2 separate regions of the Homo sapiens genome follow, and region 2 is linked to region 1. A link means that fine-mapping ties the variant in region 1 to the expression of a gene that starts in the linked region. Tissue or cell type: whole blood. Region 1 holds a variant in brackets; the other region holds the start of a gene. All regions are shown on one strand. Distances are from middle to middle.

What was found. PIP is the estimated chance that this variant, and not a neighbour inherited with it, causes the effect.
Region 2: it holds the start of TMEM131, and the variant in region 1 is fine-mapped to the expression of TMEM131 in whole blood (TOPMed, PIP above 0.99).

Annotation. Positions count from the first base shown.
Region 1 is chr2:97,752,824-97,760,917 of GRCh38, forward strand. TMEM131 (transmembrane protein 131) reads right to left here. Exons shown (of 41, transcript NM_015348.2): 37 at 7,970-8,091; 38 at 7,770-7,866; 39 at 6,829-6,926; 40 at 6,070-6,230; 41 at 3,513-4,560. The coding sequence ends at 4,276. It also overlaps a transcript of ZAP70 not described here. Among named protein-coding and RNA genes, the nearest start is that of ZAP70, 43 kb to the left of the region's middle. The variant C/T (reference allele first, on the strand shown) is at 3,720.
Region 2 is chr2:97,991,121-97,999,223 of GRCh38, forward strand. It overlaps TMEM131 (transmembrane protein 131), which reads right to left and starts at 4,828. Exons shown (of 41, transcript NM_015348.2): 1 at 4,356-4,828. The coding sequence starts at 4,542. LOC124905591 (a long non-coding RNA gene) reads left to right here and starts at 6,523. Exons shown (of 2, transcript XR_007087148.1): 1 at 6,523-7,774. RefSeq lists enhancers at 2,862-2,941, 4,574-5,087, 5,258-5,537 and silencers at 4,118-4,677, 4,788-5,037.

The sequences.
Region 1 (8,094 bases):
AATGTTTTAGTCATCTGTGATGACCTAATTTCTGGGATTGGTCTATATTTTAAGGGTGAATTTAACTCTGTGGTAGCATTTTGAAATAGGAACAAGTAAAATTAGGACAAGGCTACTCAAAGGCATCTCTAACAAAATTACTAAAGCGTATTTTTTACATTGAGAGTTAATAATTTGGTGACAAAAAGGAATCTTTCTTCAAATTTAGCATAACTAAATCACTTTACTTGTGTGAAAATAATTCAAAATCAAAGCTGTTGAAATTTTATTTAGAGCCTTAAAGGAATGTGATGATGAGGCCTGAGTCATGCAACAGGCACCTATAACCTGTTTCTCTGATCATAGACTATCCTTTTTCTTTACCTACACTGTTTTGTAAAATGTTATAAAAAACTCATGGGCAGCAGGGAAGACCCCTTTCCTCCTAACTGTTGATCGTCATTATAATTTCCCTCTTTCTTCTCTTACACAAGGACCTCACAACTACTATACTCTCTAAATCACAATGTTAAATATAGTCTTTTCAATTGGAAAGAAAAAACATCAAGCTGTAACTAATCAAATTGCTGTAGCTCATAAGCCAGACTCATATGGAAAATGCCGTGATTCCACTAAATGTGTTTTCTGCCTGTATAAAAGAGACCTTAACCTTTTAGCTCCGGAACACTGACCCCTTTCCTTTGGAGTCTGTGTTTCCCGGATGGCTAAAACAGTCTTTTAAATGAGATTCTGATCCTTTACATTATTTCAGGTTGTCATGAAAAATCCAAATTCTAATTTCACTCCTTTGATACACAGTTTAGGTAAAAAAACATTTAAAAAAGATTATACCTTTGTTTATACGTATTTATATAAACATATAAGATACCTGGGCATAGCAGCTCATGTTTGTAATCCCAGCACTTTGGGAGGCTGACGCAGGAGGATCGCTTGCGCTCAGGAGTTTGAGACCAGAGGGGGCAACGAAGCAAGACCTCATCCCTATAAAAAACAAAAAATAAAAAAATAAAAAAAAATTAGCCAGATGTGGTGGTCCGTGTCTTTTGTCCCAGCTACCTGGGAGACTGAGGTGGGAGAGCTGCTTGGGCCTGGAAGTTCAGGGCTGCAGTGAGCCTATGATTGTGCCACTGCACTTCAGCCTGGGCGACAGAGCAAGACCCAGTCTCAAAATAAATAAAGACATCCACTATCATTTCATGTAAATATAATTATATACAACCTGTAATTTTAAATTCAACCTTGGCCTAGTACAAAGCGACTATCATGCCAACAAGTGTTCACTGTAAACAGACTGAGTTGTGTCAGATCTTCAGATTTGGTGGGTATGTTGCCACTCAAATACCTACCCTTAGAGTAATTATTTGGAAAGCACAAGTAACAGAAGAGACCCTTGTTTGTATCTTCTCCCAAGTACACAGTGTTTCTCTCAAGCCTGCTGGCGAGGCTCATGGGGTGAAATTAGAACTTAAAAAAGGAGTTTGGTCGGGGGGGGTCTCAGGCGATTGTTCTGATGAAGCAAGTTTAGAATCAATTCCTGAGATACTCTTTCTGAGGAAAAGTCTGCCAATACAGTTTTTTTCTTATCTTTTTTTTTGAGATGGAGTCTTGCTCTGTCTGTCTCCAGGCTGGAGTGCAGTGGTATGATCTTGGCTCACTGCAACCTCCACCTCCCAGGTTCAAGTAATTCTCCTGCCTCAGCCTCCTGAGTAGCTGGGATTACAGATGCACAGCACCACCCCCAGCTAATTTTTGTATTTTTAGTAGAGACGGGATTTCACCATGTTGGCCAGGGTAGTCTAGAACACCTGACCTCAGTTGATCCGCCCACCTCGGCCTCCCAAGGTGCTGGGACTACAGGTGTGAGCCCCAGCGCCTGGCCCAGTTTTTCTTTGGTTTAAGTGAGGGTTTATATGAAGCTCACCTGTATGTAGAGCTTTACACGTCATTATCTGCTTTGGTGTAGAAAGAGAATCCCAAGACTTGAATTTGTCCTGATCGTGCAAGTGCACGTAGGAAACCCTGCTGCTAACATTGTACAAGGCCTGATGTCAGCCTACACACCATAGCTCTGGTTGCACAGGAAATCTGGTGTCCCCGAGGGACAAATCACAAGTTGTCAAAACAATGAGACTTGTTCTGTGAGCTTTGGTATAAAGCAGAGAAAAGGTCAGGTTCACAATCACGCCAAATAACATTTTGACTAAATCACTCCCACCTTCATGGGGATAGTTTTGATTTCATGATGTAACTAGCCTCCAACAGAACATTTATGTTACCTAGCAAAGCCTGGCTTTAACACAGACTGGAAACAAGACAATGAGAAAAGCAAGTTGGAACAGGCAAGATTAAACCAACCGATGCGTTGTGGCGTACCGAGACTCGCCTCGTGTCTGTGTGAACTCAACAGGGACCATGGAGGAGCTGAAAGTCTTAAAATTGGAAAAGGGTCAACACACTTCTAGTTAAAAGAAAAAAAATAAAATTTAGATGTGTAGTCTTTACTACTGCACCTTACAGGCTTGGCTAAGTCATTTCCAGTCTGCACCAAGGCTCCGTTTCCAGCAGCCCCAGCTGGTATTTCTACATGGCACCCTGTGTGACTGCCACCTGTGGCTCCATTCCTCAGTAGCACACAGGTTGCTTTCCATCCAGCCTGGCTTTGGGGTATAGCTGTATTAGCAGGTAAACTGCTAAAGCATTTTAATACCAGTGGGTAAATAGCTGTTTCTAGTACCCCCAGCCCCTGTGCCATAGCCCAAGGCATCCCCCCTTGTCTCCAAGCCATCATTTAGAAATGAAAGGGCCAAAGGGGCACTGCATGCTGTGTTGCTGCTGGTAAGCTCCCACAGGTGGCCCCCAGAGCCCTCCCCCAGGCTGCCCGAGTCCCTGCTGTCTTCCCTCTGTGCCCCTGCTGTCTTCCCTCTGTGCCCCGCTTCTCTCCTTTTCTGTCTTCCTCTCACCATACAACTTCCTCAGACTGAAGGCTGGTAAAGGTTGGCCAGTGTTAGAACATGCAGTGGTGAGTTGGACACAGACTGTTCCTGAGAATGGTGACTGTGACCAGAAGGAAGGCAGCACAGTGGGTGCCATGTGAATCTGCGGTCAGCCTGACCTGGGGCCTCTGAGCCAGCACTGCCCAGCCAGGTTCCTCAAGTATAATGGAGTAACCCAACATATCCCAAAGTGTTAGCCAGGTACCTGACAGAGTCAGTATTCAATAAATGGTAGCAATTACTGCTTTTTATGAGGCCTTTTAGGATAGTGGCAGAGGGAAAACGCTTACTGGATGAATCCAAACAGGCTTTCAAGTTGTTTTCGATCAAGGACCCTCCATGATTGCCATGGGAACACACAGAACTCCATTAGACTGCAGGAAGTTCCAGCAATGAGAAGGCAAACCCCGTCTTAACCTGTCAGCTCCACAGAGTAAGGCAAGGATAAGGTGGTTTACTTTGGTGTGAGAAAATCCTAATAAATACACCTTGTGTGTAAAAAAAACCACAAAACAAGGCTTTTGAAAAAAGCATCATTTATTTCAAAGTACAACACAAAGTTGTATTTTTAAGAAATACACATTCAATCTTGTATCTCAAGACTTGGCTATGTGCATTTCAGTTCATCTTTAAAATAAGTTCAGGTATACAAATGTTACATACCTCAAGTACAAACAGCACAGAAAATGCATATGGTCTCAACTGAATGTTTTTACATTCATTCAC[C/T]GTTCTTAAGTTGACTTACATTTCTGTAATCTGCTTTTAAACCAAGACAGCCTTACTTTAAAAAAATACTCTATTTTCAGCACAAAGTCCTCATACAGTTTTAAAATTAGATCTTGGCGCATAATATTGAGAAATTATTAAAAACCAAACTTGGTAATTTAACAAAATTGTCACATGCCAGGATTTCTGAATCAACTCAAATTATTTCCTTAGCTGTAATGTCAAATCTGTGTTCATACAGATAAATAAAGCATGGGGAAGACAGGTGGTGAAAACGCAGTAACGGGAAAGGTTCTCAGATGTACAGGTCTTATTAGAGTTTGTGGCTGAGTCCAGACTTTTCTCTAAAAGCACAACAGCAAATCTCATGTTATCATAATTGCAAGAAAGATCTGAAAGAAGCGAGTGGTCTGAGCCTGCCCTGCTTGGGTCTGTTTTGCAAAGAAGAGGAGGGTGGGGAGGGGAGCTGCAGTAAGAGCCTTAAAAAGATGTCTCAGAAACTGGCACATCATGATCTAGACGAGGGCCCACTATGTTTGTTTGTTTTTTGCTTAATTTAATTCTCGTGAGGAAAGTGCGAATTAGACCAAGGGTCCGAGCTTCTTCTTCCAATCGTGGGGCTCCATATCCGCCACGGGTTGTAGGTCTGTCCCAAGTCGTCAGCTGGACTGGAGGTGGAGGGAGCGTGAGGAGCAGGGGAGTTTTCTGTGCCCATGAGGCCGATGCTTGCCAGCGTGTTTGCTGGAGTGGTGAAGGGAAGGGCGCTGCTAAGGTTGCTGGACCAAATGGAGCTGCTGAATGGAGTGGTGGACCACAGGCCGCTGGTGTTACCGAGGACCGACTGCGACAAAACAGAAAGCGTCCAGCACTGAGCCCGGCAGGCAGAGGGTCAAGTGGGTAAGGGGGTAAGGCTACAGAAAAGATGAGGCTGGGGCACGCATTCCTCTTACTTTGTTTACTTTAGAACAAATGTTATATATATGTATTTGAGCAGATGTTTCTGATTTTTTTGAGACAGGGTCTTGCTCCATCACTCAGGCTGGAGTGCAGTGGTGTGATCATGCCTCACTGCAGCCTCAAACTCCTGGGCTCAAGTGATCTTCCCACCTCAGCCTCCCAAAGTGCTGGGATTACAGGCACTAGCCATCATGCCGGCTAGTTGTGATATTTTAAAAAAGACAGCTTGTGGACCAAATCCAGCTCTGCCTACTTTTGTAAAGAGAGTTGTATTGGAACACAGCTGCGCCCATCGGCCTGTGCACTGCAATGGCAGTGGTGAAGCATGGCCTTCAGAGCCTCAAATAGTTACTATCTGACTCTTTATAGAAAGTTTGCTGACTCCCACTTTGGGAGGCCGACGTGGGCGGATCACGAGGTCAGGAGATCGAGATCATCCTGGCTAACATGGTGAAACCCCGTCTCTACTAAAAATACAAAAAATTAGCCGGGTGTGGTGGTGGGCGCCTCTAGTCCCAGCTACTCAGGAGGCTGAGGCAGGAGAATGGCATGAACCCAGGAGGCGGAGCTTGCAGTGAGCCGAGATTGTGCCACTGCACTCCAGCCTGGGCTACAGAGCAAGACTCTGTCTCAAAAAAAAAAAAAAAAAGTTTGCTGACTTCTCTTTTAAAGAATGGTTAAGGTGGTTTTAAAACATAAGGCTGAATAATTACACATGAAGACAACCTTTGGAATCTGTAAAGTTGAAATATCTGTTATAAAACCTTGCATGTTTAGTTTCTCTGAGAACAAAGAGGCAAACACAGTGGGGTCATATTTTTCTGTCATAATTTTGTGGAAGCCAAAACCACTAATTATTTTCCTTGGCAAGAATACTCTTTTCAGCATGGTCTTTGCAGAAGACTTTAGCCAAGAAGCAAACAAATGCACTCTTGAAAATCTAACCTAAGAGACAGGTGCTTCTCAGCAACAAAGTAAATGCAGTATCTAGCTTGCTCCTGGGTGGCCAGTGGCTGCATTGCACAGATGCCGAAGGCTTCCCTCAACCATCTGAACCTGCCATAGGCCTATGGTCACCCTTGTGGTCCATTTACAGGTTGGGAAGAGGCAGAAAATGCCCTTGAGCTATTAGGAGGGACTCCAGAGACCAACCCCATAGCTGTTCAGTTGTTCTTCCTAAAACTTCCTGATTGTAATGGCTCTGAAGAACATCGATCAGTCATTTTGACAGAATATGAAGACAAAGCAATGGAGACAATAAAAGTACTAACCCACCCCTCTGATGCTGCTGTTTGTTGTTTATAACTATGTCAGTGCCATCCATGTCACAGCAATGGCAGATGGCGAGTGGGTGGGCCAGGTCCAGGCCCCAGCCCCAGCCCCAAGTACTCACTGTGGCTGTGTGGGTCGGGGAGCCGGAACTGGCTGGCCAGGAAGGACTGGGATCTGTCGCTGGCGACTCCCAAAGGTATGAAGGGCCACTATTAAACTCGTTCCAGCTCCTCTGTGAGGCCTGATTGCACGATCGAGATAATCCGAGTTTGCTGAAAACTTCTGGAAATAAAGCAACAGTCATCAAGTCCATATTTGGTTTTGCCATGATCACTATAGCATATGGGGCTTCACTCAATGGCATACCTCCAACCACTGCTCCTGGAGCCACCACACCCACTTCACCAGCCCACCACAGCCCAGAGGAAGTAGGGGCAGGAGTGTCCTCCAGAACTCAAACGCATAGTGCACGAGCTGATATGCCACCAATGACATCCAAATGCAAACTTTCCCCACTCTCACATGATAGCTAATGGGAAGCTTCCATGGTGACCTCTAGTTCTGGACAGCAAGAAGAGGACCCCTGGCACACTCAGGGGTCCCATTTCAGACCAGAACCCTTCTGTGAAGCCCTTCAATACCCGCCATGGAACTCACACCAACTGGTGTGCGCACACCGTGTCGAGCCTGGTCCACTGCCCCTCTGGGCTGCTGGTGTGGATGAGGGAGGAAGAGGGGAGGGGACCCTTCCCAGGGAGCTTCCTGCGGGGCCTCTTCCACAGTGCTGCTGTGCTGTGTTCTCCAGCACACAAAACCACACCTCCTCTCCCTTCCTCTGTCCACAGGCTTATTAGTTACACATCTAGTGTTAAACACTCACCACCAGTTAGATTAAAAGAGTTTCCAAAGGCGGAGAACGAATTGAGGGGAGTGAAGTCAGGGCTGCTTGGGTTGCTGACGGGACTCCACAAACCCGAGCTAAATGTTACAAGAGGAAAACGCAACACACAAAAATGTATGGTGGTTAGTGCAAACGGATCCATAGTGCACAGCTTCACAAACAGGAGACACTGCTTCAACTGGGGGTACTCAAATATTAAAAACAGACAAAAGGAAGAGCTGAACAATGGCTGCTTACCACAAGGGTTGAGTCGGAGGGAGCCCCAGAGCTCCGGATGCCCTATCACTAGCTCACAGCCAGGTTCAAAGCAAGTGTTTTGCAGAGAAACAGACATTTTTTCCTTCTGTTTGCTTTTTGGTACTGGAAGATTTATTTAAAAACTATTTCAAATCTAGAACTCATTTCCTATTAGTGCAAAGTAGGTAAATTGGGGCTCTATTGTTGCTTATCTGGAAAAGTCAACCAAGGTGACTGCTGCAGGCCACCACACCCCCTGCATGATAAACAAGCCTGCTCAAGAAAGAGGCGTGGCCAGTGATTTACTATAAATTGGCTAGTATTTGCTCCAGATTTCCCCCCTCCCAAGTCACTTTCGCTCTTCTATTTTTAATGATCAGATCACATCTTACCACAGACCAGGAGATGGAGGAGAGTGAGAACAGGTGTAACGTGTGTCTGCCTGGCTGAGACAGGCATGGGTGCCCCCTTTCTCTATCTGGACCCCCTGGGGAAGGCACCGCAGCCGGCTTTCTGCTTCCACCCAGCAGACATGATTTCTTAGAGGCACTTGACCACTTCTGACAAATGCCTCCTTGTAAATTAGGGGAAAAATGCCCTGAAACCCATTTATGGATAAAAAGGTGCTAACCCGACTTGAGAAGCCTTCCGTCTTTCTAGCGGTTAGTGGTGGTCTACCGTACCTGTCTGAGCCATCGCTGTCAACAGGAGCGTGTGAAATGCCAAGGCTGCTGGAGAAACCTGTTTTGTTTGAAGAAACTTTAGCAAAGCCATTCCCACCTGTAACAATGGACGTTCAATCAATGGAAGGCACATTAGGACAGAGGTCATTCCACCAGGCCTGGCGCCTGGCGTGGCAGGTCTCTGAAGCAAAGGCACTGACCTGGGCTCTTGTCGTAGCCAGCCGTGACTGCAGCAAAAGTGGGGTTGCCGTTCTTGCCCGGGAGCGAGGCTGCCTTTGTCAACTTGTGTTTGCTTCCATTTGGCTGTTTTATTTTAGGGTCACTT
Region 2 (8,103 bases), 240 kb after region 1:
AAAGTTTAGGCAAACTTTCAATCAAAACTGAATGCCTGCTATTTATGTACTACAGATGTTGACAAAGGTTCTGCCCTACAGAAATTCCAGCCTAGGTGAAGAATGACACCCCTGAAATCATTTAAGTAGCTAACAAGGCAGTACACAATTAGGTGTCAAAATGAATGATGAATGATTAACAAAGACCACAAATTCAGAGGGAGCATGCAGGACTGAACAGAAATGGCGAAAGGCGGTAGGAGAGAGGCTGCTGCAGTGCCCCATGGTGAAGGCAGTGGGAGAGTGATCAAAAGAGGATGTAACAGGCACTGATGCCACTTGGTGAAGGGTCAAAACTGAATCCAGTGGGGCAGGCAGAATAATCATAGCATTAATAAAAAACTGAAAACTGGAGGTGGCGCAAGATAATTCTGCCCTGGACACATGCAGTGTGCACCAGCAGCTAGACACACACAGGGAGGAAGACAACCAACAGGCAATTGGAGAGCAGCAACTGTCAGCTAGGGCACAACCAGAACCGAGAAGTACAGAGTCACCGAAACAATGCCAGATGCTGCTTACAAGAGACCGTAGGGGAAAATTCAGCTGTAGGAAAAGGGCCTCTTGGTCTGGCAAGGCCAATCAGAGCGCTTGAGTCACATATAGGCAAGAGAGAGAACACCTAAAATATCAAGCACCTAGCAAAGATTTTATTTTCCTCCAAGAGTAATTTGGCTTATTGCTACTCTGGATAGTAACAATTAGATGAGTTTACATCTACTCCCAAAGCAATCTTGTTGGCAGATGTCTATGAGGGTCCACTGTAAGAATTAGAAGGAGGAGGAAAATGGTCATTAGCAAGAGGAAAAAAGGACACACTTTTTCCAACTACAAAACTCCAATGCTCCATCAGGCAACAGCCTTTAGTAAAAGCAGGCTACAAACGTTCATTAGTGAAGCACTTATTAAATAACATTCTATTTACAAGGCCCTAAATTAAAAGGTACCCACTCTACCCCATACAAAGGGTTAACACATCTCACTCTTAAGAAAATCACTTTCAAAAACATTTTAACATTATCGAGTAATAAGTAGGTTAAAAATAGTTTGGTTAAGAAAAAGTAAATAACACTCCTAGTCAATTTGGCTACCCTTAGAAAACTATTAGATTCTTATCTGTTTTCTTGTGGTCTTTAGTCCTATGCACTTTTCTCATATGCTTTGTAAATACTTTTGTACTGTGTTTTGCACCTATGTCACAAATACAGCTTAAAACAAAAATTTGTGCATGAAACTATAGTACACTGGCAAAAAATTTTTAAAGTCCTAATAAAGGCTGTCAAACGTTACCCTGCCATTTAATTGCCAATTAATAAAACATGTGACAATGAAATTTAAATTGTCATAAATTGAAACATTCTTGAAAACTTATTCGAATTTATATTTACTAGATACATAAACTATAGCTTCTCATTTATAATAAATGCCTTCCAAAAACCCACTTCACAATGAAATTATATTACATGATATATAATGCTTTTTTAAAAAAGGTCTTATTTGCCAGTCATAATGGGCTGCTTTATAATTCAAAAGACTACTAAAAGTATACATTTAATATATACACATACACATGTATTTTCACTATATATTTTAAAAATATATTTTCACAACTCACACACATTTTTGCTATTCTCAGTATCTAGATGTTAGCCTCAAGACAAAATCTTGCCACCAATCTAGAACTAGTTATTTGTAGTGATTATAACAACTTCTATCTCTGGAAACTCTTTCAAAGTCCTTACAAACTTTACATCACAGCCAAAACCATCTCAAAGGTACCTTTCCTCTGGACTAGTGATAGCACACTCCCATAGCTCAGTTAAGTCATATAGGATGTTAAGACAAGGAATGGTCCATGCTTCTGACTCAAGAAAATCAACATCAAGTCCAAACATGAAAAACTACATTAGGTAATTTATTTCTGCAGCTTTTCTTCAGGAGACAATGAGTTTTATTGTCTTTTAAAGATTTTGCAGTGAAATTATACAGTAATGAAGGAAAAGAAATACAAACATACAAAATACCTGCAGAATCATCATTAAAACTGCAGGTAAATCTTAACTTTGAAATTTTAAACTAGTTTATGCTACTTCAATAGACACAAAATTCCTCCGGGTGTGAATGATCAAACTGAACTCAGCCATCTTCAGAAATCTGCCCAAACTTGCTGAAAAACTCAACAGTACCTTTTAGGACAAATACTGTATTTGTGCCTCATCAGATGCCAGACTCACAGTGTCACAATCACGTAAGAAAATAAATTGCTTTTCCCCTACTTACTCAGAAACAATACTGGAATATGATCAGTTTTAAAGGAGAAGCCATTTCTGGAGATACCTTCACAGAATATTTGATTAGAACCAGATCTGTTTATGATGGGTAGAGGCCTATGTTCTATATCAGCATCATCTCCATTAATATCTTGGATAACCGCACACACAAATTGTTCATACAGAAAAGCATGGGCCACAAAGGATATCTGATTCACCCAGGCCACTGGCTGATTCAACCACCCCTTTAATACATACTTAACACCCTGGCAAGTATTCTCCTCATCCAATCCTTACACACATTTATGGGTATTAGAGAGGTGCACTAACATGTATAAACTATGCAAATGAGAAATTAGCAAATATATTTTAGGCTGACAGTTCTCAAACAAAAGGTTTGTTTACTTAACTTTACCCAGAGTAAAGTTTTTATTAGCATATAAAATGGCTGTTGGAAAAATCAGCAGCAGTAGAAGGAAAATACAAACTTAATGCTTTACTAGATTCAACCATTATTTCAATTCCCTGTGCTAAGGGCGCATGAAGACAGTCATTCACTCAAAGGCTAAGCGCCAGTGTGTCTGGCACTGTGCAAGGTAAGCAAAGGAACAGAAAAACAAGGACACAATACCCACCAAGGTCTACTTGAAGTCCCACCCAAAAAATGTCCATTAAATTACTGCACTATTTTGGGTTCACTGAACACCCACTACAGGCCAAAATGCTAGGTGCCACGATCACACATAAGAAAGAACACTCAACTAACTGCAGATCTGTGGCCAATGATGTATTATGACAACCCCAGGACCGACTAGTCCTAAAGCGGCAATATTTTATTCTGGAAATAATTTTGCTTCCATCAATTAATCCTTTCTATAGACGACAATTCTTTGAATAATTTCCACCAATGTTAACTCAGACTAAGGTTGCTTAGAGAGTTAGATAAGGGAATGTAATGTGGACAAAAATAAAAGAAACAGTATACTGAAGCACATTTGCACTTTAATACTAATTTGGTTTGTATTTGCTTTCACCTTCAGCAACAATAAAAAGCAAGTGACTTTAGTCATAAAGTAGAATGTTAACTCTAAAATTACCGTGGCAAGAAATTGTTTTCTTGTACAGGCAGTTTCATGTGCAATGCTAAACTAACAAGTTTTGCGTGGTTTGTTTTTTTTTTAAACTATTCACTTAGTCAATTCTTCATGAAGGCTCTGTGACCATTCACATGTCCCTTGGCTCAAAAAGAGGTAGTGTAGATGAAATTACACTGATTTGGTCTTCAAGATTACAAAATAATTTTTGACCCTGTCCAAGTACCCGTTTTGCAGCAGTACAATACTAATGAGATTTTTAAAATAGGGGCCAGCCCTTAACTGTAAATTATAGATAAATGCTTGCAAGCTGGCAACTTCACGTTTATTTTTAAAGGCTTTCACATCAAAGATAAAGGCACCGAATCACGTATTTTAAAATAAGAAATGTAAACAGGCTTTCAACAGCTTACTAAAGAGTTAAATGGAATTGTATTTAGGTCTAATAATAAAGTTATCAATAACGCAGAGACACTAAAGGAGGAAGCTACAGGACCAAGATTTCCCCTCGAAGAAATGTCTGAACAAATTCAAAGTGAAATTTTTTAAGCTGTGTCTCGCTATTTTTACCACATTTTAAAGTAAGCTCTGTCTGCATGCAACCAACCGCAACCAAGAAAACAGAAGTGTCCTAAAATGTACCTATTCGCCGCAATAAAGCCAAAAAATATGCCCCTCCTACCTAGCGGGCCAAGTGGCAAGAACGTACGAGAAGTCAGGAAGTTTTGAAATGGCAGTGACAGGAGACGGGGGAAGGCACGGGAAGGAATCACGGAGAGCGAAGGCCACTCCGTGCGGCGGGCGCCGCGAGGTCCCGGCTCGGGACGGTACCCGACCGCCCAACTTTGCGCCGGAGCCCCGGCCGCGGCCCTTCCTCCCGGCCCAGCCCTCCCGGCCTCCGCGAGAGCGGGGTGACAGCCCCGCCGCAGGGACGCCGCCGGGGGACACCCACCTTCCTTCTCGGCCCGCGCCGCAGCCACTACGAGGGTCATCACCAGGTGCAGCGCGCCTAGGAGGCCGGCGGCCGCGCTCCGCGGGCCCCCGCTACGGGCGGCCGCAGGTTCCAGCCCGGCCCCGGCGGACGTGGAGACGGCGGCGGTGGTGGCTCCGGTTGCTCCTCCTCCCGCCCGCTTCCCCATCCCTGCCGGCCGGGGGCCGCCGCGCTCGAGGTCCGGCGCGGCCCTTCTCGGCGAGGCGGCGGCGGCGCGGAAGCCGTGGTCCGGGCTCTGGCCGCGGCGCCGGGAGCGACAACGGTTGCGAGCCCGGGGCTCGATCTCCGAGCGTGGGCCTGGGTCCGTGCGTGCGTGTGAGCGAGAGTGTCAGTCACGGTCTTTGCCTGGGCATCGCCTACAAGCAGTCGGAGCGGAGAGGCCGCGGGTCAGGCGCGGCGGGCGGCCATACTGGAAACGGGCACGGCCCGCGAGCCCTGAGCGCTGGCCTGCGAGGGGCGGGGCGCGGCTCTGGGCACCGCCCACGCTGTGCCGACACCTGGGCTGTCCGGCGGTCAGTCTGTCCGCCCCGGAGCCCCCTGGGCCCCACCTCCTCGTCCCGCTCTCGGAGGCCTGCGGCTTCACGGCCAGACAGAACCAGGACAGAACAACCCCAGCCCGTTACCGCTACCTGGCGCAGGAGAAGGAGGGAGGCAGGCCCAGGTCCAGCTGCCAGGACTTATGATGGCGGCTTCTGCTTCGCGGAGGCGGTGTCGGCAATCACGTGGAGACGGGGCGGCCTCGCCGCGCAGCCGCCGCGTTGCGTGGGCGGGGCAGGGGCGGAGTTGCGGGGCGCTAACCTCTTCTCCGGCGCCTGGGCAATCCTCCGTGCTCTGTCCTACAGTGGTAGAGCCTTCCAGGGGTGTGAGTGCGCATACAGACCGCGAGACGAGCGCGGAAGGTCCGTTCCAGTGACTCTTCCTGGTGGCACCCCCACCTCTCGACCGCTTTGACGTCGAGAATACCCCGGGCCTGACTCAGTTCTTGATGGTGCTTCCTTGAGGATGGTGGCCCGCTGAACTCATCCTTGGGTCTTCCAAATCATGGTACCCAGGAGGAGCTTGATGGAGTCCTCTTGCCTTGGCTTGTGCCCACATTGGCGCGGAACACCTCGTGTGCAGAAAGCGTCGGTGACTCTGGATGGAGAAGGCAGGGGCAAACAGACTGCTCTTTAGAATATCCAGTAGCCGGCTTCCTCTCTCGAGGAAGAATTCTTTTTTTTCTTTTCTTTATTTTTTAATTATTTATTTATTTTTGAGACAGGGTCTGGTTCTGCCGCCCAGGCTGGAGTGCAGTGGTGCGGTCTGGGACTACAGGCACCCGCCACCACGCCACGCCAATTTTTCTTTTTCTTTTAAGAAACGCTGTCTCACTATGTTGGCCGAGCAGGTCTCGAACTCCTGGGCTCAAGCAGTCCGCCTTCCTCGGCCTTCCAGAGTGCTGGGATCACAGGCGTGAGCCACTGTGCTGGGCCCGGAAAAATTCTTAAGACGTCTGTTACCTTCACGAGCCATCTCGCGCCTCTTAGATGCCCTTTTCATCTTAGGTTGAGCTTCTTGGTGCGCATGGCTGTTGTCTCCAAGACTTAATTTAAGCTCTTGGAGGGGGTCCTTCTTTACTCATCTTAGTAACTTCCTCCCAGCTTGTAGCCCAGAGACATTTTACTTTCCTTAGCTGTATTTGTTGAGTGAGTCGATATATGTGTAAGGCCAAGTCTGCCCACAGTACGTCTCAGAACAAGCTAGATAGGAAAATAAGGTTTCAGAAAGACAAAAGGAACTCCAGAATCTACTCTATGAAGTAGTCCCCTGTGTCAAGCAAGCACTTAAATTTATTCATAAATTAATATATATTTAAATATGACCTTAGCCTAATGATTTTAAAAAGCAATTTTAGGGCAGGGCGCAGTGGCTCACGCCTGTAATCCCAGCACTTTGGTAGGCCAAGGTGGGCGGATCACCTGAGGTCAGGAGTTCGAGACCAGCCTGGCCAACATGGTGAAAACCCGTCTCTACTAAAAAATATAAAAATTAGCCGGGCGTGGTAGTGCATGCCTGTAATCCCAGCTACTCCGGAGGCAGGAAAAACGCTTGAACCCGGCAGGTGGAGGTTGCAGTGAGCCAAGATAGCGCCACTGCACTATACCCTCGACAAGAGCAAAACTCCGTCTCAAAAAATTAATCATAAGCAATTTTACTTTTTTGAATATTAGCCTTAAAATTGAGTAGTCAAATTTTATTTTGATGTAATGAAATAGGAATAATTATCTCTTAAGTTGGCGTTTAAAATGTCTGAGGCAAGAGATTTCTGGAAGGCTTTTGACTCACGGAAGAGATCAAACCCAAGGATATGTAACTGAGCGCTTTTGCTTAGCCTCCAACGTGCTAGCTCTGCAAGTCAGCAGCCCTTCCCCCATGGCCAGATTCAGGACAAACAAGCCTTTCCAACCATGAAGTGCTGAGGTTCTCTTACACAGCAATCAGCCACATCCCCTGGTTAGCCTGAGGCTCAGCAGCTCCATGGGAAATAACTTGCACCTGTCTGTAATTGGATCTTTAGACGTATACAGACATGTTTGATCAGAGTTCGATTTCCCATGCAGCTAATGAAGCTTAAGCCGCAGGGCCCCCTCTCTTGCACAAGTTCCTTCCAAGTCCCTGAACCTAATTGTGTATTTATAAGCCTGTATTCTTGTTCTTAAAGGAGCCCTCCCAATAGTTGGGTAGGCTTTTAAGGCCCACCATACCTGAACCCTCCCCTGTGCCTGAGGGACACTAGGAGCAGGAGGGGTGATGATGGAACTTTCCTCCCAGGAAAGGACAATGAGGCCACTGAGAGTCTAACAGTGAAAGACGTTTTGCTAGACAGCATGGTAAACTGTGTGTTAGAGAGAACCTGGCGTGGAGCCACCATCACCCTATGATCCTCTACCCCCACTCCCCAACCCTCATGTGTCTCAGGAGAGAACCAGGAGTTAAAATTGAAGGAACCATCACACTAAGGACTCTCAAATAGTTCTGATTAGTTGTGAACTTTTCTCTTTTTCCCTTTTGGAAATTGGAGAGACCTGGCCATTTGGCAGGTGGAGGTATTAGCTGGCAGAGTCAGGGAAAACTCGCTAAACCAGTGGTTCTCAAGGTGTCATCCCCAGACCAGCTGTAGCAGCAACACCTGGGAACCTGTTAGAAGTGCAAATTAGCAGGCCAAATCCCAGACCTGTGGAATCAGGAATTCTGGGTTGAGGTCCAACAATCTGTTTAAACAAGGCATCCAAGTGATTCTGATACAGGCTCAAGATTGAAGACTGTTGCACAGTGATATATGCCAGGAGCTACAAGCTGTTGGGACTCCTCACTTTCTGTTCATTTTGCTCTCTATGCAGGTTAGTAATTTACCATTCAAGGCAGAATTATAAGAGACTCAGACAAATTTGAACTTAAATCCCATCCCTGCCTTTACTAGCTATATGATGCTGAGCAAATGACTTTTCTGGCCTCAGATTCCTAATCTGTAAAAATGGGGATTATGATATAAATTTGGGGAGATTAAGCATATAGGTTTGTGAAGCATATAGACTAGTGTCTGGGACATAGGAGACTGTCAAAAGTAGCTATTAGTGAGCACTCACTCTTTTCAAAACACCACATTAGGCACGAAGATCCTTGATCCATTGATACCTCCACTTCATTCCACAAAATACTTAAGGAGGTG